Linked DNA regions of Homo sapiens: all the other regions are linked to region 3. The links come from fine-mapping of genetic effects on gene expression. A gene starts in region 3. Each other region holds a variant in brackets. All regions are shown on one strand. Distances are between the middles of the regions.

Evidence for each region. PIP is the estimated chance that this variant, and not a neighbour inherited with it, causes the effect.
Region 1: its variant is the best candidate, but not a certain one, in a credible set for the expression of AVPR1A in whole blood (INTERVAL, PIP 0.83).
Region 2: its variant is the best candidate, but not a certain one, in a credible set for the expression of AVPR1A in whole blood (INTERVAL, PIP 0.75).

The regions. Positions count from the first base shown.
Region 1 is chr12:63,434,691-63,442,876 of GRCh38, forward strand. No RefSeq gene overlaps it. Among named protein-coding and RNA genes, the nearest start is that of LINC03056, 65 kb to the left of the region's middle. The variant A/G (reference allele first, on the strand shown) is at 4,405.
Region 2 is chr12:63,190,494-63,198,679 of GRCh38, forward strand. No RefSeq gene overlaps it. Among named protein-coding and RNA genes, the nearest start is that of AVPR1A, 43 kb to the left of the region's middle. The variant C/CT (reference allele first, on the strand shown) is at 3,610.
Region 3 is chr12:63,146,875-63,155,060 of GRCh38, forward strand. It overlaps AVPR1A (arginine vasopressin receptor 1A), which reads right to left and starts at 4,327. Exons shown (of 2, transcript NM_000706.5): 1 at 2,993-4,327; 2 at 1-771. The coding sequence starts at 3,962. The coding sequence ends at 485.

The sequences.
Region 1 (8,186 bases), 290 kb after region 3:
TGCCTCTGTAGACTCCACCTCTGGGAGCAGGGCATAGCCAAACAAAAGGCAGTAGAAACCTCTGCAGACTTAAATGTCCCTCTCTGACAGCTTTGAAGAGAGTAGTGGTTCTCCCGGCACGCAGCTTGAGATCTGAGAACGGACAGACTGCCTCAAGTGGGTCCCTGACCCCCAAGTAGCCTAACTGGGAGGCACCCCCTAGGAGGGGCAGACTGACACCTCACACGGCCGGGTACTCCTCTGAGACAAAACTTCCAGAGGAATGATCAGGCAGCAACATTTGCTGCTCACCAATATCCGCTGTTCTGCAGCCTCCACTGCTGATACCCAGGCAAACAAGGTCTGGAGTGGACTTTCAGCAAACTCCAACAGACCTGCAGCTGCGAGTTCTGACTGTTAGAAGGAAAACTAACAAACAGAAAGGACGTCCACACCAAAACCCCATCTGTAAGTCACCATCATCAAAGACCAAAGGTAGATAAAACCACAAAGATGGGGAAAAAACAGAGCAGAAAAACTGGAAACTCTAAAAATCAGAGCACCTCTCGTCCTCCAAAGGAATGCAGCTCCTCACCAGCAATGGAACAAAGCTAGACAGAGAATGACTTTGACAAGTTGAGAGAAGAAGGCTTCAGACGACCAAACTATTCTGAGCTAAAGGAGGAAGTTTGAACCCATGGCAAAGAAGTTAAAAATCTTGAAAAAAGATTAGATGAATGGCTAACTAGAACAAACAATGCAGAGAATCCTTAAAGGACCTGATGGAGTTGAAAACCACGGCATGAGAACTACAAGATGAATGCAAAAGCTTCAGTAGCCGATTCGATCAACTGGAAGAAGAGGTATCACTGATGGAAGATCAAATGAATGAAATGAAGCAAGAAGAGAAGTTTAGAGAAAAAAGAATAAAAAGAAACAAACAAAGCCTCCAAGAAATATGGGACTATGTGAAAAGACCAAATCTACGTCTGATCGGTGTACCTGAAAGTGACGGGGAGAATGGAACCAAGTTGGAAAACACTCTGCAGGATATTATCCAGGAGAACTTCCCCAATCTAGCAAGGCAGGCCAACATTCTAATTCAGGAAATAAAGAGAATGCCACAAAGATACTCCTCGAGAAGAGCAACTCCAAGACACATAATTGTCAGATTCACCAAAGTTGAAATGAAGGAAAAAATGTTAAGGGAAGCCAGACAGAAAGGTCGGGTTACCCACAAAGGGAAGCCCATCAGACTAACAGCTGATCTTTCGGCAGAAACTCTCCAAGCCAGAAGAGAGTGGGGGCCAATATTCAACATTCTTAAAGAAAAGAATTTTCAACCCAGAATTTCATATCCAGCCAAATTAAGCTTCATAAGTGAAGGAGAAATAAAATCCTTTACAGACAAGCAAATGCTGAGAGACTCTGTCACCACCAGGCCTGCCCTAAAAGAGCTCCTGAAGGAAGCACTAAACATGGAAAGGAACAACCGGTACCAGCCACTGCAAAATCATGCCAAATTGTAAAGACCATCGAGGCTAGGAAGAAACTGCATCAACTAACGAGCAAAACAACCAGCTAACATCATAATGACAGGATCAAATTCACTGATAACAATATTAACCTTAAATGGAAATGGGCTAAATGCTCCAGTTAAAAGACACAGTCTGGCAAATTGGATAGAGTCAAGAACCATCAGTGTGCTGTATTCAGGAAACCCACCTCACGTGCAGAGACACACATGGCTCAAAATAAAGGGATGGAGGAAGATCTACCAAGCAAATGGAAAACAAAAAAAGGCAGGAAAAGAGGAAGTCAAATTGTCCCAGTTTGCAGATGACATGATTGTATATCTAGAAAACCCCATCATCTGAGCCCAAAATCTCCTTAAGCTGATAGGCAACTTCAGCAAAGTCTCAGGATACAAAATCAATGTGCAAAAATCACAAGCATTCTTATACACCAATAACAGACAAACAGAGAGCCAAATCATGAGTGAACTCCCATTCACAATTGCTTCAAAGAGAATAAAATACCTAGGAATCCAACTTACAGGGGATGTAAAGGACCTCTTCAAGGAGAACTACAAACCACTGCTCAATGAAATAAAAGAGGATACTAACAAATAGAAGAACATTCCATGCTCATGGGTAGGAAGAATCAATATCGTGAAAATGGCCATACTGCCCAAGGTAATTTATAGATTCAATGCCATCCCCATCAAGCTACCAATGACTTTCTTCACAGAATTGGAGAAAACTACTTTAAAGTTCATATGGAACCAAAAAAGAGCCCACATTGCCAAGTCAATCCTAAGCATAAAGAACAAAGTTGGAGGAATCATGCTACCCGACTTCAAACTATACTACAAGGCTACAGTAACCAAAACAGCATGTTACTGGTACCAAAACAGAGGTATAGACCAATGGAACAGAACAGAGGCCTCAGAAATAATGCCACATATCTACAACTATCTGATCTTTGACAAACCTGACAAAAACAAGAAATGGGGAAAGGATTTCCTATTTAATAAATGATGCTGGGAAAACTGGCTAGCCATATGTAGAAAGCTGAAACTGGATCCCTTCCTTACACCTTATACAAAAATTAATTCAAGATGGATTGAAGACTTAAAATGTTAGACCTAAAACCATAAAAACTCTAGAAGAAAACCTAGGCAATACCATTCAGGACATAGGCATGGGCAAGGACTTCATGTCTAAAACACCAAAAGCAATGGCAACAAAAGCTAAAATTGACAAATGGGATCTAATTAAACTAAAGAGCTTCTGCACAGCAAAAGAAACTACCATCAGACTGAACAGGCAACCTACAGAATGGGAGAAAATGTTTGCAACCTACTCATCTGACAAAGGGCTAATATCCAGAATCTACAATGAACTCAAACAAATTTACAAGAAAAAAACAAACAACCCCATCAACAAGTGGGTGAAGGATATGAACAGACACTTCTCAAAAGAAGACATTTATGCAGCCAACAGACACATGAAAAAATGCTCATCATCACTGGCCATCAGAGAAATGCAAATCAAAACCACAATGAGATACCATCTCACACCAGTTAGAATGGCGATCATTAAAAAGTCAGGAAACAACAGGTGCTGGAGAGGATGTGGAGAAATAGGAACACCTTTACACTGTTGGTGGGACTGTAAACTAGTTCAACCATTGTGGAAGTCAGTGTGGCGATTCCTCAGGGATCTAGAACTAGAAATACCATTTGACCCAGCCATCCCATTACTGGGTGTATACCCAAAGGATTATAAATCATGCTGCTATAAAGACACATGCACATGTGTGTTTATTGTGGCACTATTCACAATAGCAAAGACTTGGAACCAACCCAAATGTCTAACAATGATAGACTCGATTAAGAAAATGTGGCACATATACACCATGGAATACTATGCAGCCATAAAAAATGATGAGTTCATGTCCTTTGTAGGGACATGGATGAAGCTGGAAACCATCATTCTCAGCAAACTATCGCAAGGACAAATAACCAAACACCGCACGTTCTCACTCATAGGTGGGAATTGAACAATGAGAACACGTGGACACAGGAAGGGGAACAGCACACACCGGGGCCTCTTGTGTGGTGGGGGGAGGGGGGAGGGATAGCATTAGGAGATATACCTAATGTTAAATGACGAGTTAATGGGTGCAGCACACCAACATAGCACGCATATACTTACGTAAGAAACCTGCACGTTGTGCACAGGTACCCTAAAACTTAAAGTATATATATAAAAAAAAAGACCTTGTCTCTACAAAAAAACTTAAAAATTAGCCAGCCTGAGTTGGGAGGATCACTTGAGGCCAAGAATTTGAGGCTGCAGTGAACTATGATCATTCCACTACACTACAGTGGTAATAGAGCAAGACCTTGTCCCTAAAAAATATAACAAGATAAAAATTTAAAGGCCGATTTGCAAGGAAATATTGAGGTTAGAATTCTGCGTATACTTTTTAAGCAATGGTACATGAGTTAGTTAAATAGGTACTGTTTTGTAAAGCCAGTTAAAATTTTTTCTATCCATTTTAAAGTATGTTGAAACTATGGGTGACTTGAAATGTATTTCTAATATATAGGTAGGGTTTTTTTTTTTACCTAGCTGTTTAATTGTTCTGTGATTAATACGCTATTGAAAAAATGAATTGTTAATTGTTGGGATTTTTCTTACATTATGTGGCAGGTTGTAGGTACCCATTTTGCACAGCCACCTTCTATTCTTATGTGAAAAAAATTCTCTTTGTTGCAAAAAAAGTTTATTTATTTATTGCTAATAAAGAGTTTGTGTCAATATGACAAAAAAAATTTTCAGCCAAGACAGACCAACAGCTAGACATCTTGCACCAAACAGCCAAGTTGTAAATGCTGGTTTGAATTCTGACTCTGCT[A/G]CTGCACCATGTACCTTAGTCACACTTTTTGACCTCCCTGAGCAAATGGGAATAATAATATGTATCTCATAAATTGTTGAAAAGACCCAATTAGATATTTTATGTAAATTGCTTGCCACATAGTAGGGATTTAAAAATATCAACCCCTTTCTTTTTGGTTTGTCTGGTAATTACCATCCAAAGAATAAGAGTAGTGGGCATAATAACACTTCCAAATTTCTTTTTATATACCACAGTGCTGCAGGCACAAGCTTACTTGCACAAACTGTTCAAATTAAATTGCTCATGTTTTGTCACTTCTGGAAATCTAACTTTCTTATTGTGTTATACAGTTTAATTTTTCTTTAGTTTCCTTCACATGGTTTGTCTTTATGCACATGATTTCCATATCATGGTACTGAGTTGTCCTCAGTTATATGCTCTGATATCTACTGTGTTATTCATGTTGATAGCTTTATAGATTTTCCCTTGACATATTTTTCTTTTATCGTTGTCTGAAACCGTCCTGTGTCTCATGGCCCAGTGTTTCTCTTTTGCGTGTCCCTTTTCTCTAGTCTGGAAAATACTTCAGTGTCTGCCCAGGACAGAAAACAAACCAAAAAAAAAAAAAAAACCCCACACACATCCCAGAGGTTTTTAGACCCTAATCACTTGAAGGGTATATGGTGCATTCAGCCCAGGTATTCTCTGGTAATTCTCTGCCTTTTACAACTGGTTTCCATGCAGTCAGCTGGAAAAATATAATAAAATCCAAGTAAGGTCAAGCCAGGAAGTCTATCCCAACTTCCTTCAAGTCACCTAAGTAATCACTTAGAAACAAAGGCTAAAGTAGTCCTGTGTAACCTGTAGTACTAGCACTGCCTGACTGCTGATAATCACAGAAGGCTCACTAAACAACCAAGCCCAGAGGATGCATAACTTTAGCACAGGAAACAGAAAGGAAAGATGAGATACTTCCCTTCCTAACTCTGATTTCTTCTCTCAACTTCAAATGCCTTTAAACATATTTTTCACTCATTCGTTTTTTCATTTATTCATTTGTTATTTATTTAAGGAAACACACAGTAAATACTAATTATAGGCCTAGGAATTTGCCAATTAGTAAATCCAAACTTCGTGTCCTAGAGAAACTCAGCGAACTGGAAAGATAAGCAAATAAATGAATAACAGTCTGACGTGCATGTAAGTTTAAAGAGGTGCGGTAGTGGGAGGTGAAGAGAGAGCAGGCAGCAGGCAGATGCTAGAACAGCTTGGCAGAGGAGATGTCACAAGCACTGAGCCTGGGGAAGGACAAAGCTGGAGGAGAGGGGGCAAGGAATGTGGGAGGGAAATGTCATCACATATTCAGGGATACTGAGGGATCTGCTGTGAGGACAGACAAGAATTGGTTCATTGGGTCAAGAAGAGAGGATTAGAGAAAAAGCAGAAAAGGTGATCCTGGGAAATTAGGTACAACCAGCTTTTTGAAATGTACAAATATGGCATGAAGGGACAGTGAAAAGATCATGGTTTTGTATGCTAGCTGGGCTACTTAGCTGTATGAACTTGGACTTAACATCTCTACACTTAATATCTCTGAACCCTAATTTATTTGCTTGTCAAGTTGAGGATAAGACTCAGGATTGAGCTAGAAATGATAGATAATGTGTTTATAACAATTGTTATAATATTAATACTATAGCTACTATGTATTGACCACTTACTATATAATGTCATGTGCTTTACATGATTATCTCATTCAATTCTCAGAGAATAATGTTATACCTTAGATATTATTATTATCCACATTTTACAGTTGAGGAAACTGAGATTAAATAATTTTCTATTAAATGGCTGCAGTATGATTAAAACATAGATGTGTCTAAACTAAAGTTCTTGTTTTTAAGTGGTATATTACATAAAGTAGTCATTGCCCAGTAGATAGTACATGCTCAATAAATGGAAGTTAGAAATCATAGTAGCAGTAGCAGTAATTGTAGTATTACGGGTAGCCAAAAGAAAACTAGCAGTGAAATTGTAGTAATGGCGGTAGTAGTGTTATCCTATAGGAAATGAGACACAAACAAAGGCTTTTTGTTGTTGTAATTTGTGTATTTATTTACAGAGAAAAAAACATGATTAGATTTGCATTCTAGAACAACTTTGGGAAAAGTATCTTAAAAAATGCATTTGAGAAAAAAGTTCCTTGGAACTTCAAATGACATTTATTTATTTAAGATGTTGTCTCATCATCTTATGTGATATTGTGAGCCCTGGACATAATAGAACACATTTTCAAATATTTTAGAAGTATAAGTACTAAGAGTTAGTAAATCATTGCATACTGGAGTGAGGTAAAGTTGATACCACCAATCCAAGAAGAGGACTACAAAAGAAGGATCACACAGCAGGTAATTTTTTTATTTGGGAATATGTTGATAGTAAGACATTCAGGTGATTCTGTCCAATAGACAGTAGACCCTGGACAAACAGCCTCCAGGTTAAGTTAATATAAGACACAGTCTTCCTGTAGGGCTAAGTAAGAGCACCCAGGAAATGTACAGTGAGGAGAGAAGAGGGCATAGGACCACACCCTGACGAAATTCATCCTTTGTGACATCTAGAAGAGGAGTTCACAGGGGAAACCAGGGGAGGAAGAGCAGAAAGGGAAACTGGAGAAGGTGAGGATAGATTTTATCCACTTCCAGTTTGAAAGGATTGACACTAGGCTCAGGGATGAGCATTAAGATTGTTTTTTTTTGCAATTGGTGTCTGCTATCACATATCCCATTGCAGGAGGTTATGATCCTACATATAACAAATAAGTAAGTATATATGCATATGTGTGTGTGTATATATATATATATATAGAGAGAGAGAGAGAGGGAGAGAGAGAGAGAGAGAGAGAGAGAGAGAGAGAGAGAGAGAGAGGGAGAGAGAGAAAATCCACAACTAGAAACTAAATTTGTGCAGTTATTTAATTTTTGATTGATGTAAATTTAAATTTAAGCAGCCCCATTTTTCTAGTGGCTACCATATTGGGGAGTTTCACCAGTTAGAGTGAACACTAAAAAAAGTAATGCAAAGAGTTGTAACTAAAAAGACAGGAAAAAATAAAATGGAATGGGAAAAAACCTGTTAATTCGAAAGAGAAAAGAATAAAAGAAAAAAGAATGAAGGGAGCAAATGTTTTAAAATAGTAAATTAGTTAAATTTGTATCAGTAATTACATAAAATATAGATAAACACTAATTTTAAAAATTGATATTGTCATGGAATTTTTAAAAAAGAGACCAATTATTTGCTATTTCGAGAGATATATTTTAAACATAAAGATACAAATAGTTAAAAGTAAAAGAAAAACTACATCGTACAGGTGCTAACCATAAGAAAACTGATGTGGAAATATTAATATCAATCAAATGAGATACGAGGACAAAAAATATTTCTAGAGGAAAAAATGGGCATTTCATATGGATAAATGGTCTAATTCACCAGAAAGACATAAAAATCCTACATGTATTACTTACAATATGAATTAAAATAAATGAAGGGAAAATGGACAGAACCAAAAGAACCAAAAGGAGAAATAGACAAGCTTATAATCATAATTTTAATATAGGTCATTCTGTAATGTGTAGAGAGAGCCAACAAAAAAAAAAATCAGAAAAAATCAGGGAAACTGGAGAAGGTGAGGGCAGATTGAACAACACTATTTACCAACTCGACCTTGACATTTACACACGATCTTACCCAACAACTGTAGGATTATTTTCAAGTGAACATGGGATAGTAACCAAAAC
Region 2 (8,186 bases), 44 kb after region 3:
GGTAGGAAGAATCAATATCATGAAAATGGCCATACTTCCCAAAGTAATTTATAGATTCAATTCCATCCCTATCAAGCTACCAATGACTTTCTTCACAGAATTGGAAAAAACTACTTTAAAGTTCATATGGAACCAAAAAAGAGTCCGCATCGCCAAGTCAATCCTAAGCATAAAGAACAAAGCTGGAGGCATCACACTACCTGACTTCAAACTATACTACAAGGCTACAGTAACCAAAACAGCATGGTACTGGTACCAAAACAGAGATATAGATCAATGGAACAGAACAGAGCCCTCAGAAATAACGCCACATATCTACAACTATCTGATCCTTGACAAACCTAGGAAAAACAAGCAATGGGGAAAGGATTTCCTATTTAATAAATGGTGCTGGGAAAACTGGCTAGCCATATGTAGAAAGCTGAAACTGGATCCCTTCCTTACACCTTATACAAAAAATAATTCAAGATGGATTAAAGACTTAAACGTTAGACTTAAAACCATAAAAACCCTAGAAGAAAACCTAGGCATTACCATTCAGGAAATAAGGATGAGCAAGGACTTCATGTCTAAAACACCAAAAGCAATGGCAACAAAAGCCAAAATTGACAAATGGGATCTAATTAAACTACACAGCTTCTGCACAGCAAAAGAAACTACCATCAGAGTGAACAGGCAACCTACAAAATGGGAGAAAATTTTCGCAACCTACTCATCTGACAAAGGGCTAATATCCAGAATCTACAATGAACTCAAACAAATTTACAAGAAAAAAACAAACAACCCCATCAAAAAGTGGGTAAAGGATATGAACAGACTCTTCTCAAAAGAAGACATTTATGCAGCCAACAGACTTATGAAAAAATGCTCACCATCACTGGCCATCAGAGAAATGCAAATCAAAACCACAATGAGATACCATTTCACATCAGTTAGAATGGCAATCATTAAAAAGTCAGAAAACAACAGGTGCTGGAGAGGATGTGGAGAAATAGAAACACTTTTACACTGTTGGTGGGACTGTAAACTAGTTCAACCATTGTGGAAGTCAGTGTGGCGATTCCTCAGGGATCTAGAACTAGAAATACCATTTGACCCAGCCATCCCATTACTGGGGATATACCCAAAGGATTATAAATCATGCTGCTATAAAGACACATGCACACGTATGTTTATTGCGGCATTATTCACAATAGCAAAGACTTAGAACCAACCCAAATGTCCAACAATGATAGACTGGATTAAGAAAATGTGGCACATATACACCATGGAATACTATGCAGCCATAAAAAATGATGAGTTCATGTCCTTTGTAGGGACATGGATGAAACTGGAAATCATCATTCTCAGTAAACTATCGCAAGGACAAAAAACCAAACACCACATGTTCTCACTCACAGATGGGAATTGAACAATGAGAACACATGGACACAGGAAGGGGAACATCACACTCTGGGGACTGTTGTGGGTGGGAGGAGGTGGGAGGGATAGCATTAGGAGATATACCTAATGCTAAATGACGAGTTAATGGGTGCAGCACACCAGCATGGCACATGTATACATATGTAACTAACCAGCACGTTGTGCACATGTACCCTAAAACTTAAAGTATTAAAAAAAAAAAGTGTATCTGTATTTTTGTGTTCATGAAGGGGGTATTCATATCTACATATTCATGTAGATATGTGAAGATACAATTTTCTGACTGTGATTTTATCACATCCCTCGATTTTTCCACTGTTCCATCCTTCTGTCACTCATCTGTTTCTCAGTCTTCAACTGCAGAACAAGAAGCTGAGGCAGAGACATAATGAACACTTATTAAACTGCTTGTATGGTATAAAAACAAAAAAGACGGTCAACAAAAAGCTGGTTAGGAAAATATAAAAATCGGTCTTTATACAAACTGGCTTTTAGTAAATTGGTGTGCTGCCAGAAATAGGACGGAAAAATGCTCCTGTGTAGCATGAGCAGGAGCCAGCAGCTCCAGTATGCTCCAGTGACTGACAGTTCAGGTTACTCCATGGCAGAGTCTAGGGACATGGGCAGCCTAAGCCAGGGGACAGATGGAGGACAAGCTTGAGACTTGAACCATCTTAGCATCAATGAAAGCTATGATGGAAGCAAAGCAAGTCAGGAAGGAGGCTGGAATTCCCTGCCATGCAGTGAGGACACACCCCAAATTCCACCAGCTGCAGAACTTTAGCAGGAGAATCATCAAGGCTTCACATAGAGAAGCCAGGAAATACAAGTTAAACCTCAACCAGAGGCCAATGGGAACCAGTAGAGGCAAGGGTCCCCTTTCCCAAAGTCTCATGGTGTGCGGTGCAGAGGCATCCCTTTGAACTAGGCCTCATGATGGGAAGGAGGAGGGGGAGTGTGACTCTTTGAAAGGATAGAAGCATCCTTGATAGGAAATTTGAATTTTGAATTATCAGACTATTTCCCCAAAAGACTGAGTTAATCCAATAAAATCAATAGTTCTGACAGCACACTTATAATGATATTTTAGGAAATAATAAGGAGTTTAAGCTGCTTGACGCCTGACCTGTAGTCCCCAGCACAGAGCCTCATACGACACAAGCCTAAAATAAATATTTGCCGAAACTCTGATAACATAGTTCAAAATGAATATCTAGAAATAGAGAAAGCCAATTTTGTTCGGCTCAATTCTTTCTCAGCCACAGAGATGTATTTTGAGAAACTTTAGTGTTGCTTTCACACATCACATTCTTTTAGGTCACGTCAAGTGATCAACTTCACATTAGGTAAAGAGTATTTCCTCGTAGCAAGACCCTCACATTACAGACCAAACTGCCACATGAGTTATCTGTAGGGCCCAGACATCCCTCATGTACGAATACTTTAAACACCTCATAAAATGAATAGGGTAATTTTATAAGTATGAAAATTATGGAACCAAAGAGATTCACATTTTTGTTCTTGACTAAAAAAGATGCATTTATTGCAATCTTGTGTTTTTACTTGACATAAAGAGTAAATACTTTGCCTTCCAATTTGGCTTTCTAGTGGCGTTCCACATCCCAATGGCAGTTTTTAAGTGCTACTCGACTGATATCAAGGATGTTGTCTTATATCAGAGCAGCTTGGATTTTCTACATTCTTATAAACTTTCCTACTATAAACTTGTTACCATGTTGTGTGATTCCAGAAATGATTTTGGGAAATATCTGTCTCTTGATGTTTGTATTAGTGATTCCTTACCTGTGTGTCTTGCCTTATCTGATTTCTCCCACACTTTCAAATCTGCAAAGTTGAAGCCAGTTTGGAATATCTAGTGTTCCTTTCTGTCCAGAACAGCAAAGGTTAAGGTAGGGTACACCTGGTTGCTGTATGTCAGGTGATTCTCAGTCCTGACTGCACATTAGAATCACCTAGAAAGCTTTTGAAATTACAGATGATTATAATGTGTAGCTGAGGTTGAGAACCATATTCAAAATGAAGTTCCTCTAAGTAGAAATCCACAAAATAGAAGTCACTGAGCTGCAGAGGAACACAACCCATTTATCTTTGCTCTTTTATGTATATCTTCTTCATTCTACTCCTTCCCACTGCCCCACCAGGTTTTTGGATGAAGAGCACTATCCT[C/CT]TTTTTTTTTTTTTTTTGGTGGGGGGACAGAGTCTCGCTTAGTCGCTCAAGCTGGAGTAGTGCATTGGCATGATCAGATCGCAGCTCACTGCAACCTCCTCCTCCTGGGTTAAAGCTATTCTCCTGCCTCAGCCTCTACAGTAGCTGGGATTACAGGCACCTGCCATTACGCCTGGCTAAGTTTTGCATTTTTAGTAGAGACGGGGTTTCACCATGTTGGTGGTGGGCCAGGATGGTCTCAAACTCCTGACCTCAAGCGATTCACCCACCTTGGTTTCCCAAAGTGCTGGGATTACAGGCGTGAGCCACCGTGCCTGGTCGGATGAAGAGCACTATCCTAATGTGTGCCTCTGTATGTTTTCTTTGAAGGCAGAGGAGGGGAGCAATGGGAGAAGAATGAGGATGGAAAGAGTGCTAGGGATGAGTAGACACAATGTTACAATGGCCAACTAGCACAAGCTGAAGGTTCCATCTTCCTACCCAATACTGAGGGATGATTTCAAAGTGAGAGGAAAGTGTGTAAATCTGAAGGACCAAGGATAAAGTAGGAGACAGAAGGTAGTTGTGTCCTAGGGAGGAAAGGCAGCCTAGAGGAGATCATAAGGGCATTAATGTTTTGGAAAAGAGCAATGAGTGGGTAAAAAATAGGAAGGTTCTCTGAGGGGAAAACCATCTCCCCTCCCTGGCCACTTAAAGTCACAGGAGTGAATAAGCTGGGGCCTGTGCTTTTCCACCCCTACCCCATTGCTAGCCTAAGCAACCCATACCCCCAGGGATAAATGAGTTCTCAGGAATAATAACCAAACATACGAGGAATATAACCACTTTCTAAAGGACATAGCAGATGAATAATTTGTTCTAGATGAGGCAGAATTGTTGAACCAGACCAAACAAAACTTCAAAATAAACATAATACATTTCTCCCAAGAGATAAAAAAGAAACAGGAATATTCAGTTATAAAGAAGAGCCAATTGAGGGCCAGGTGTGGTGGCTCATGCCTGCAATTCCGGCACTTTGGGAGGCTGAGGTGGGTGGATTGCCTGAGGTCAGGAGTTCCAGGCCAGCCTGGCCAACATGGTGAAACCCCATCTCTACTAAAAATACAAAACTTAGCCAGGCATGGTGGTGCATGCCTGTAGTCCCAGCTCTCGGGAGGCTGAGGCAGGATAATTCGTTGAACTTGGGAGGTGGAGGTTGCAGTGAGCCAAGATTGTGCCACTACACTCCAGCATGCATGATACAGTGAGACTGAGTCTCAAAAAAATAAAATAAAATAAAGAAAAATGAAGAGCCAATTGGAAACCATGAATATAAAAAACATTACAGTAGAGGTAAAATATTAGAAAGCTGGGCTAAATATTGGAAAGAATATAGTTCAAATATGCTAATGAGCTGGTCAAAGAATTCTCCCAAATGGTGTCAGAAGGAGGAATTTCCTTAAAGTAAGGTTAACGAACATGGTGGTGAAAGAGAAACTCTGAAGATCTGTGTGTTACAATATAGGAAATATGGAAAAAATTAAGAGCCAAACTATCTCAATATCAAAACAGGTAGAAAAAGAAGTACCTCGTGCAAACATAATATCATGAAATTTGAAAACATCAAAGAGAACATTTTTTAAGTTTCCAGAGAGAAAGAGAAAAACACATTAAGAAAACAGAATAAGATTGCTATAAAACTTTAGAACAGAGACACAGGAAAGAGAAAGATAATGTAGCAATATTTTCTAGGTGATGAAAAACAAAAACTTTGAACTCCGAATTTTTTATCCAGTTAAGCAGTAATTTAAATGTGAATTGCTATAAAGATGTTCTCAGACAAAGAATGACCCTCAGAAGTTCTTGCAAGTAAAAACAAAAGCAGTTTTGCTGGAAGTCTAACAGCAGAGAGATTCCAGGAGGAATTTGTACATTACATGGGAAGGAAAGGTTGTGTAAATAATTTAGTGAAGATTAGCAGAAGCCACAAACAAAGTATATTCATGACATTCCAGAACTATTGATAAGACAGACATTCTTGAATGTGGAGGCTGGGGAGGGAGAGAATAAGCAAGCTAAAGTACATGTCTTCCTTGAGGGGAAGATGAAGGCATTAAGTTTAAGAAATTGATCTTCGGCGCCCGACTGGCAAGGTGGCCAAATAGGAACAGCTCAGGTCTGCAGCTCCCAGCGAGATCAATGCAGAAGGTGCTGCATTTCCAACTGAGGTACCCAGCTTATCTCATTGGGATTGGTTAGACAGTGGGTGCAGCCCACAAAGAGTGAACCGAAGCAGGGTGGGGCATCAACTCACCCGGAACCCGGGAAGCACAAAGGTCAGGGAACTCCCTCCCCTAGCCAAGGGAAGTCATGAAGGACTGTGCCTTGAGGAAGTGTACACTCCAGCCCAGATGCTATGCTTTTCCCACAGTCTTCACAACCTGTAGACCAGGAGATTACCTTGGGTGCCTATGCCACCAGGGCCCTGGGTTTCAAGCACAAAAGTTGGCAGCTGTTTGGGCAGACACCAAGCTAGCTGCAGGAGTTTCTTTTCATACCCCAGTGGCACCTGGAACACCAGTGAGAGAGAACTGTTCACTCCCCTGGAAAGGGGGCTGAAGCCAGGGAGCCAAGTGGTCTAGCTCAGCAGGTCCCACCCCCACAAAGCCCAGCAAGCTGAGATCCACTAGCTTGAAACTCTCACTGCCAGCACAGCAGTCTGAAGTTGACTTGGGATGCTTGAGCTTGGTGGGAAGAGGGGCGTCCACCATTACTGAGGCTTGAGTAGGTGGCTTTCCCCTCACAGTGTAAACAAAGCTGCCAGGGAGTTTGAACTGGGTGGAGCCCACCATAGCTCAGCAAAGCTTCTGTAGCCAGATTGCCTCTCTAGATTCCTCCTCTCTGGGCAGGGCATCTCTGAAAGAGAGGCAGCAGCTTCCAGACAAAGAAACAGACAGAAATCTTTGCTGTTCTGCAGCCTCCACTGGTGATAACCAGGCAAACAGGGTTTGGAGTAGACCTCTAGTAAACTCCAGCAGACCTGCAGCAGAGGGGCCTGACTGTTAGAAGGAAAACTAACAAACAGAAAGGAATAGCATCAACATCAGCAAAAAGGATGTCCACACAGAAACCCCCACCAAAAGGTCACCAACATCAAAGACCGAAGATAGATAAATATACAAAGATAAGGAAAAACCACCTAAAAAAGGCTAAAAATTCCAAAAATCAGAATGCCTCTTCTCCTCCAAAGGATCACAACTCCTTGTCAGCAAGGGAACAAAACTGGATGGAGAAAGAGTTTGCTGAATAGACAAAAGTAGGCTTCAGAAGGTGGGTAATAACAAACTCCTTTGAGCTAAAGGAGCATGCAAGGAAGCTAAGAACCTTGAAAAAAGGTTGGATGAATAGCTAACTAGAATAACCAGTTTAGAGAAGAACATAAATGACCTGATGGAGCTGAAAAACACAGCATGAGAACTTCATGAAGCATACACAAGTATCGATAGTCAAATCGATCAAGTGGGAGAAAGGATATCAGAGATTGAAGATCACCTTAATGAAATAAGGTATGAAGACAAGATTAGAGAAAAAAGAATGAAAAGAAATGAACAAAGTCTCCAAGAAATATGGGACTATGTTAAAAGACCAAACCTATGTTTGACTGGCATACCTGAAAGTGACAGGGAAAATACAACCCAAGCTGGAAAACACTCTTCAGGATATTATCCAGGAGAACTTCCCCGACCTAGCAAGGCAGGCCAACATTCAAATTCTGGAAATACAGAGAACATCACAAAGATACTCCTCAAGAAGAGCAACCCCAAGACGTATAATCATCAGATTCACCAAGGTTGAAATGAAGGAAAAAATGTTAAGGGCAGCCAGAGAGAAAGGTCAGGTTACCCACAAAGGGAAGCCAATCAGACTAACAGCAGATCTCTCTGCAGAAACCCTGCAAGCCAGAAGAGAGTGAGAACCAATATTCAACATACTTAAAGAAAAGAATTTTCAACCCAGAATTTCATATCCAGCCAAACTAAGCTTCATAAGTGAAGGAGAAGTAAAATCCTTTACAGACAAGCAAATGCTAAGAGATTTTGTCACCACCAGGCCTGCCTTACAAGAGCTCCTGAGGGAAGCACTAACCATGGAAAGGAAGAACTGGTACCAGCCACTGCAAAAACATACCAAATTGTAAAGACCATTGACACTACAAAGAAATTGCATCAACTAATGGGCAAAATAACCAGCTAGCATCATAATGACAGGATCAAATTCACACATAATAATATCAACCTTAAATATAAATGGGCTAAATGCCCCAATTAAAAGACACAGACTGGCAAATTGGATAAAGAGTCAAGACCCATCAGTTTGCTGTATTCAGGAGACTCATCTCACATGCAAAGACAAATATAGGTTCAAAATAAAGAGATGGAGGAATATTTATGAAGCAAATGGACAGCAAAAAAAAGCAGGAGTTGTAATCCTAGTCTCTATTAAAACAGACTTTAAATCAACAAAGATCAAAAAAGACAAAGAGGGGCATTACATAATGGTAAAGGGATCAATGCAAAAAGAAGAGCTAACTATCCTAA
Region 3 (8,186 bases):
TGTTTAAGGCTGCATTTTCTGATGCACAAATTAATTTTAATGGATGAAAACATAATTTCTCTGAAGTTTTCTCTGAATATTAAGACTGATGATGAGCTCTCTTTGTTCAGAAATAGTGCCGCATTTTATGTGACTTTTAAACCAATCAAGTCTTACTTATGTTAGAAATGAAAATAAAAGAAACTAACAACAAAATATAAAGCTAGGGTGGTTATGATTTTTCCTTTAAAAATATAACTTCTGTTGTATTTCTGGGAATCAGACCTGCATATTTTAGTACAGCATGTTTCCATTAATATTCCATACAAAATAATGTCTAGTTTTTGGTAGCAATATGAAAATGCAACTAGAAACACAGTCTCATACACAATGAATTGATTTATGGTTATATTAATAAAGTGTATTTGTTCTTGTGATTTCTAGCTCAATTCAGCTAATGAGCCAAAAAGTCAATCACAAGAATCAAGTTGCATGAATGCAAGGCTCAAGTTGAAACAGGAATGAATTTGATGGACTTGGAAGATTTAGGCGAGTCCTTCCACATACCCGTACTGTTTGTTGGGCTTCGATTGTTAGAATAAAAAGTCTGTCTTCTGCTCATACTGTCAGTATCTTCTTTGTTGAATTTTTCCTTCATGTTTTGGCAGCATGGGAAGCTTTGAACACAGTCTTGAAGGAGATGGCCACTAAAAAACATGTATATCCAGGGATTACAGCAGCTATTCAAGGAACCCAGTAATGCAGTGATGGTGATGGTAGGGTTTTCCGATTCTGCATGAAAAATATAAAGGGAAATCATGTAATGTAAGTGAACCATGGATAAACTCATTTTTCTATTAACTAATTAAGAAGGCATAAACTTCTGGATTATCATAGAAAATGAACTATTTTGTTTATCAATCAGGGAAATGGGGAGTGTTTGAAAATTGCTTGACTATAAAATATTTTTGTAAGCAAGATGCCTTAAAATTAATTCAAGTATTTTTAAAACACTATCAAAATATTTAAATAGAATTGAGTGGGAATTTTACGAGGTTAAGACTATTAAGTAATTGATTTAAAAAATCTCTATCTTCTATACTCGAACTAGCATGTGCTAATGACACAGCAGTTACAGAATGGCTACAATTGTAATGAAATTTTAAGATAATTTTAAATAACCATGTATACCAAATTGTATTTATCCTAATAACTCAGGAAAAAATATTGCATTAGGGATCAAGTTTAGTAGTTTTAAATATTCTTATAATATGAAAACCATACAGAAGAAGTCCCTGGATGATATAAGCTTTAGTTGTTTTTCTTTGGTTAGAAATTTGGAAAACCATCTGTGGTTGTGGTTCAAACAAATTATATTAAGAAGAACAGTAGAATTAGGAAATTCCAACAGGATTCTAAAATATTTTATGATAATTAGCACTGGTAAACTGCATAAATATTATAACCTTTCACAGTGGAGCTACAGTGCTGATAATATACCTTTTCTAAAAATAAGAATAATCAATAAACACTGACTTTTCCTTGATTATTAAATATAAACTTGGATCTTCTCACTCTTGTTATGCCAGAAAACAATTACAGGTTATTATTTAATCATACTTAGTGCTAAGATGCTGCTATCAAAGGTGATCAGGAGCCATGGGTAAGATGGTATTCACAAAGAATGAAAATTACCAACATATCTATGCACAATTGAAGTTTTTATTACTTGAGTGTAAATTCTGCTAAAGCAATAATTAGACTGAATTTCTTTATTTGATGGACAATATGAAGAGGCTTCTAAGATCAAGCAAGATAAGAAATAGCAAACCAAAAATAAAGTGTTTATATTGTATTTTTCATTATCGCTAGTATTATAGTCAGTAAGAATATTTAAGTTAAATTCATACTGAAATGTTTTATTTGCAAATATAACTTCCAAAGCATATTACATACCTCCCCTACTCCAATTCCAAAAAGCAAAAGGAGAACAGCTACTCCCAGATACCTATTTCCTGTTACCAGAAACATTCTGGTAACAACTGTACCATTGAATTTATTTGGTTTGAGTTCCGACAAGCACTGGAATTTATTTAGTTTGAGTTTTTGTCTTTACTAGAAGAAAATATTTTCAAGATGCAAAATTAAATAATTTTTTTTGCAAGTCACTGTGAAGTTAGTTTTTCTAGTTTGGGAAGGAATTAAAATCAAACACAATAGTAGGTGCAGAGAACATTTCCAGTAAACTACTGTAAGAGTTGGGTGGAGAGATGTAGAGCCGTGTGGTCAAATGAGTGGTGAAAGACTAATGAATTAGTCTAATGAATTTAGTTTATCAATAATTCTGCTTTGAAATACCAAGAAAAAACTATTAATCATTGTTAGAAAAAAATAGATTATAACGAGAAAGGAACATTATTAGCTAAATGCCAAATTGGAATTACTCACCTTCTAAAGAATTTTTCTCCAGCTTTCTTTAGAAATATATATCTGTTTCTATCCTTGCCCCTGAGGCATTTCTACACATTTTTAAAATTAATTGTAATACTTTTCACAATCCAACAAAAAGCAGTTGTGACAGTAAAAATATTTCCCTGAATCCAATAGACCTGAAATGGTGTTAATACAGTAGCTAGTGATTTAGCAAAAGTCATTCTTCGGCTTTGTAGTTGCTTGGCTGACTCTAGGACACAGTTTCTGGAATTGTGGTCTTAGGATCATTGCACACTACAAATGCAGAGTCCTGAGCCCCATTCCAGACATTCTTAATTAGAATGTCTGCATGGGGAATCCAGGAATATGCTTTTTTTTTTTTTAAACAGTGTTCCTCCAAGGTGCGACTCTTATGTACACATAGAAGTTTAAAAACTACTGCCCTAGAAGATACTATGAAGAAAATTGCTAGATTCTCATTTTTTTCTCTCTCTCTCTCTCTCTCTCTCTCTCACACACACACACACACACACACACACACTCCTATCCCTGCACTTTCCTCTATTTTCCCGGCACGTACCGGTCCAGACGGACATGGGATCCCAGACAGACCACATCTGGATGATGAAGAAAGGCGCCCAGCAGACGATGTAAGCCGTCACGATCACAAAAGTCATCTTCACCGTGCGGATCTTGGCCCGGGAAATGGACTTCACGCTGCTGACACAGGGTGCGAGCAGGAACCCCTTTTGGAAGGCCACACCCGCTTGCTCTGCACCCTTGCTCTGGCGCGACGCCGTCTTCCCGCGGACGTTGCACCAGATGTTGTAGCAGATGAAGCCGTAGCAGGTACCCAAGATGACCACGGGCGCCACAAAGATGCCGCCCGTCATCCAGGTCACGTAGGCACGAGAACCCCAGGGCTGGATGAAGGTGGCCCAGCAGTCGCGGGCCTTGGTGACATTGTTCACCTCGATCATGGAGAAGACGAAGTACTGCGGCGTGCTCAGCACGAAGCTCAGCACCCAGGCGGCCGCGATCATGAGGCGCGAGCGGCGCGCGGGCTGTTGCAGAGTCTTGAGCGGGTGGCACACCGCGATGTAGCGGTCGGCTGTCATGACTACCAGCATGTAGGCCGACGCAAACATGCCGAACACCTGCAGGTGCTTCACCACGCGGCACAGCCAGTCGGGGCCGCGGAAGCGGTAGGTGATGTCCCAGCACATTTGCGGCAGCACCTGGAAGAATGCCACGGCCAGGTCGGCCAGGCTGAGGTGTCGGATGAAGAGGTGCATGCGGGACGTCTTGCGCGGCGTCCGGTGCAGAGCCAGCAGTACGCTGCTGTTGCCCAGCACGGCCACCGCGAAAGTCACCGCCAGCACGGCGATCTCCAGTTTGGCCAGCTCCTCGTTGCGCACGTCCCTCGGTGGGCCGTTGCCCTCCCCGAGGGCTTCGGCCTCCCGGCTTGTGTTGCCAGCGCCGGTGGCCAGAGGCCACCATGGGCTGGAGTTGCCCGAGGGCCCCGCGTCGGGACCGGCGGAGAGACGCATGCTGTCCATGCAGCTCCTACTCGGCCCTCTTCGGAGCTCCAGCCCTCGCGGGCCGCTCCCTCCCCGTCTCGGAGGACTTGGGCTCCTCGTCCGAAGCGCAGGGTCTTTGGCGCGCTCGCAGCTTGCCGGGCTCTGCGATCCCTCCAGTGGGCGTCTCCCGGAGCAGCGTCCCGCCTGCCCACTGAGCAGCTCTCAGCAGGGTGAGCTGGCCCCTCTCCCTGCTCTGCCTTTTTTCAACTTCGGCGAGGTCGGGAAGGTGAGCTCCGAGCTTCCGGAAGCACTGGGTTCCCAACTCAAGTATTTATGCGGTGCTTGTTTCCTTGGGACGCGCTCCCTCCCGCCCTATTGCCGGAAGACTGCTGGTTGCCTACTCCCCGCTCCCTGGAGTTTTATTTTTTCCTCTCCCTACGTCGGTGTTTGTCCTCTGCATCACTGTGGAGGGGGTGGAGCTGGGAGACTCGCAGATTCCTCCTCACAGTAGGTGGGATCGTGGCGCTTTCCCGCTTTTCCCTTCCAAAAACTTGGACAACTGGACGAGTCATGCCTTTTCTGGGCTCGTAGCCGTTTCCACAAGCTTCCCTCACTAGCCTTCCTCGCTAGCCTCCTTAACCATGCATTTGACTTCAACAGGCACGCTAAGCGCGGTACCTGGAAACCTCCAGTCCACGCACCGGCGTCCACGCATCTAGCTCCTGCACCTGAACCTGGCTCTCGACCTCACCTCCTCCAGTCCGGGTTTCTTCCTTCTCACCGAGCTCACCCGTGCAGCAGTCTGGCAAATTTTATTCCCCAGGCAAATTTTCCCGGGGCAAACATTTCTCCCCGCTCGTGACTTAAAGAGCTATCTCTTCCTAGTAACGTCTTTGATGCATGCTATTTATTACCCTATGTTTGCGACGGGAAGAACGCACTCATCACTTTGCAGCCCCAGTGGCTGCTGTGCCTGTATTCACAGCGGGGTTTGGGGGGAGTGTCTCCTGGTTTTCTCTATGGAGACTAGGGACTTAAGGAGTTTTCTCTAGATTCCTGGGGTTTTCTGCGGGAAAAGCCTGATTCCCACAGCGGGGATGGCGGAAATTTGGCCGCAGTGGTCCGTGGGGACCGTCTGGTTACTACTGAGTCGTGGGGACATCTTTTTGGGTGGACAAAGAGCAGCTGCCGGACAGCGGCCATCCAGGCAGTGCTGTCCAGGGCAAGGGACAGAAAACCCGCCCGGCTCCTGTGCTCAGGAGTAAGAAAGAGGCAATCTCAAAGAGAGGAAAGAGGCCCTGGGAAGGAGGGGAAACAACCACCTACCTAGTAATCCGTTACTCTGAACAGCTGGAGCCCCTCTGCAGGGCGGGAGGGAGGCAGAAATGCGATCTCCCTCAGCTCTGTTTTAACGTTGGTGAAGATATGCCTCGACGGACAGCAAGGGGGAGCTGTTTTCAGGCAATTTTACAAGGAAGAAAGGAAGCCGTTTCTGCAGTTATCTGCTGTGTAGATGCAGGAGCATGACTTTGTTGGTCAGAACGTTTCAGTATTGTGGCCGTGGTATAAATTTAATTGCCTCAGAAAAATATCACCCTCTGTGAAACGTAGGCAAAAAATGCAAAAGATTTTATTCATTGCAGTTCTCAGTAATAATTCCACTTTACTATCCAGTCCGTTCATGCAGAGTTACCAAGGTTGTCACGTTGAGATGCTGGACTTGAAATCTGGAGTCCTGCTTCCTGTGGCTAGATAATCCTGGGTCTGTGCGTCTTATAAATGGAAATGAAAGGACCTGCCTTTCCTGTTGTTGAGGTCATCGGGAAGATCAAGTAAGACAATGTTCTGTATGGGGGAAATGCTCTAAAAACTGAAAGCTGTGTTGTGTTGGTTCATTTTCTCCAAGATATCCAGGAGGCAGAAGATTGAAATGGTTCAGGGATGGAAGGTAATAGGTAAAAGGTTTCCAGACCACCTGTCTGGAAAAAATCCTTCAAGCAATTAGGTAATAGTCACTGACTCAGAGAATTCACTTTCTTTTAAGTCACAAATTACACTATTAGTGCTCCTGATGAGAAAGAATGTTGACTGAACCTAGTGTCTGGGTATTGCAAAAGTGGTTTGTTGGCCACAGCCTAGTAATTTTGTGGCTCTTGGCCCTACACACTTGAGCTTTTAGGTTTTTTTCAGGAGAGGAAATCTGCAATACAGGCTCACCAATATCTCTGTGGAGGTTCTTATTCCAGGAGATAGGGTGGTGGCCTCTCAGGAAATCATCTGTGTCAGACAATCTGATCCAATTATAAAACTATATCCAATTATCCAAATTATAAAAATAACCTCTCAAGTTATGTTGGTGGATACAGTTGGAAGATATTATTGTTCAGTGACAACAGTACCAATTATCCATATATATCAAATGTATATATGCTTGATACATAGATGTATGTTTATATGTATGCATCTGGCCATTCTATGTATCATGTGTCAATCAATCATCTATCTATCTGTCTATCTATCTATCTATCTATCTATCTATCTATCTATCATCCATCTATCTGTCTCTCGCTGGTTGTGCTGGATGCCATGGGGCCTGGAAAGCAGGAAAAAAAAATGTTCATTGCAGATTGTAGAACCAGTCCCTTTGTTTAATCCATATAGTTTTAAACATGTTTTTGACTTAATTTAACTGGTTTTATATACAAAGGAAAGCAGGACTATTACATATGAGGCACTACTCATATGCCTCACTGGACCTGCTATTAAATTACCCCATAGAGAGTAAAATAATTGTGGTCTTAAAATATGAAAAAGAAAACACAACAGACAATATTTTATGTGGCACCTTGTGCTTTTTCTTAGAGCAATTTACATTTTCTCTGTACTTTTTGTATTATTAAGACTTACCTTTTCCCTCTTACTCTTTGTAGACTTCAGTTAACAAATTTTAGGGGTGAAATAATGAAAAAAATAAGGAAGTTGTGCATACATATCCTGGAATAATCATTCTCTTTCATTTACCAATCTTCTTTCCTTTCACTTCATAATTCCAGATATTTGAGAAGTACTTCAGTTCATGGAAGCAGCTATCTCCTTCACTTACTAGCAGTAAGACTTTGTTTTCATCTTCGAGTTTCAAATTCTTCACTGTAAAATCTTGGTGATTAAACACAATGCAGTTGCTGCAAAGATTATATAAATGGTTGTTTAAATTTCTGGCATTTTATCGGTGTTCAAAACATTTTCTTTTTTTCATACATGTAAATCCTCCAAATTACCAGCTATTTTACCATTAACATTTTCCCTTCCAATTAAAGCAAAATATTCCCAATTTACATATGTGCAATGAGAAGAGTTTTATGGTTAAATATGTTGGAGAAGTGCTGTGTATGCATCCCACCCTCTCCTGGTGATTTATACATAAAAAGGACCTGAGAAACTTCAGAAAAGAAACTTACTTAACCTTGTTCATCAATGTTTTCCAAGGTTATTTTACCATGGAAACTCCCCATTTTTTTACTTTCCCCATGGAATGGTGATGAACATGTCACAAGACAAGGTGACAGAGCAGGAGCATCACCATCCTGCCATTTTAAAGTTCACCTTGATCAAAAACCACCTAAATCCAAAGGGCATCAGCCTAATGGCTAAGGCCAGAATGACCATGAGCCACAAATAACATCTCTTACCAGAAACATTCCAAACCCCTCCCTGACCAGAGACATATCAGCCCCAAGATAACCTCCCCTCCAACCAGATACATTCCAACCCTGCAACTGACTTCTCCGTTATACAGAAACATTCCACGCCGGTGATAAGTTCTCTCACCCTTAAACCAATTAATACTCTTAGTCTGTAACAGAGAATGCTCCTGACTGAAATTGGCCAGAAGCCCCTCTCAGGTTTATTCTCCAAAATAAACCTGTCTTTGAATGTTGAGCCACTTTTTGTGTTTCTTTGCATATTTGATTGCTTCTTCTGCCCTATTGTTTAAGTAAAAATGCAGATTCACTGAGCCAGACTAAGGCATAAGTGACTATTCCTCTACCCTCTTCACATGTAAGTTATCTATTCAGTGAAAGACTAAAGACTCAAAAGAACACAACCATTTGTCTCTTATCTACCTATGACCTGAAACCTCCCGCTTCGAGTTGTCCCACATTTCCAGATTGAACCAATGTACATCTTACTTATATTAATTGATGTCTTATGTCTCCCTAAAATGTATAAAACCAAGCTGTACCCTGACCACCT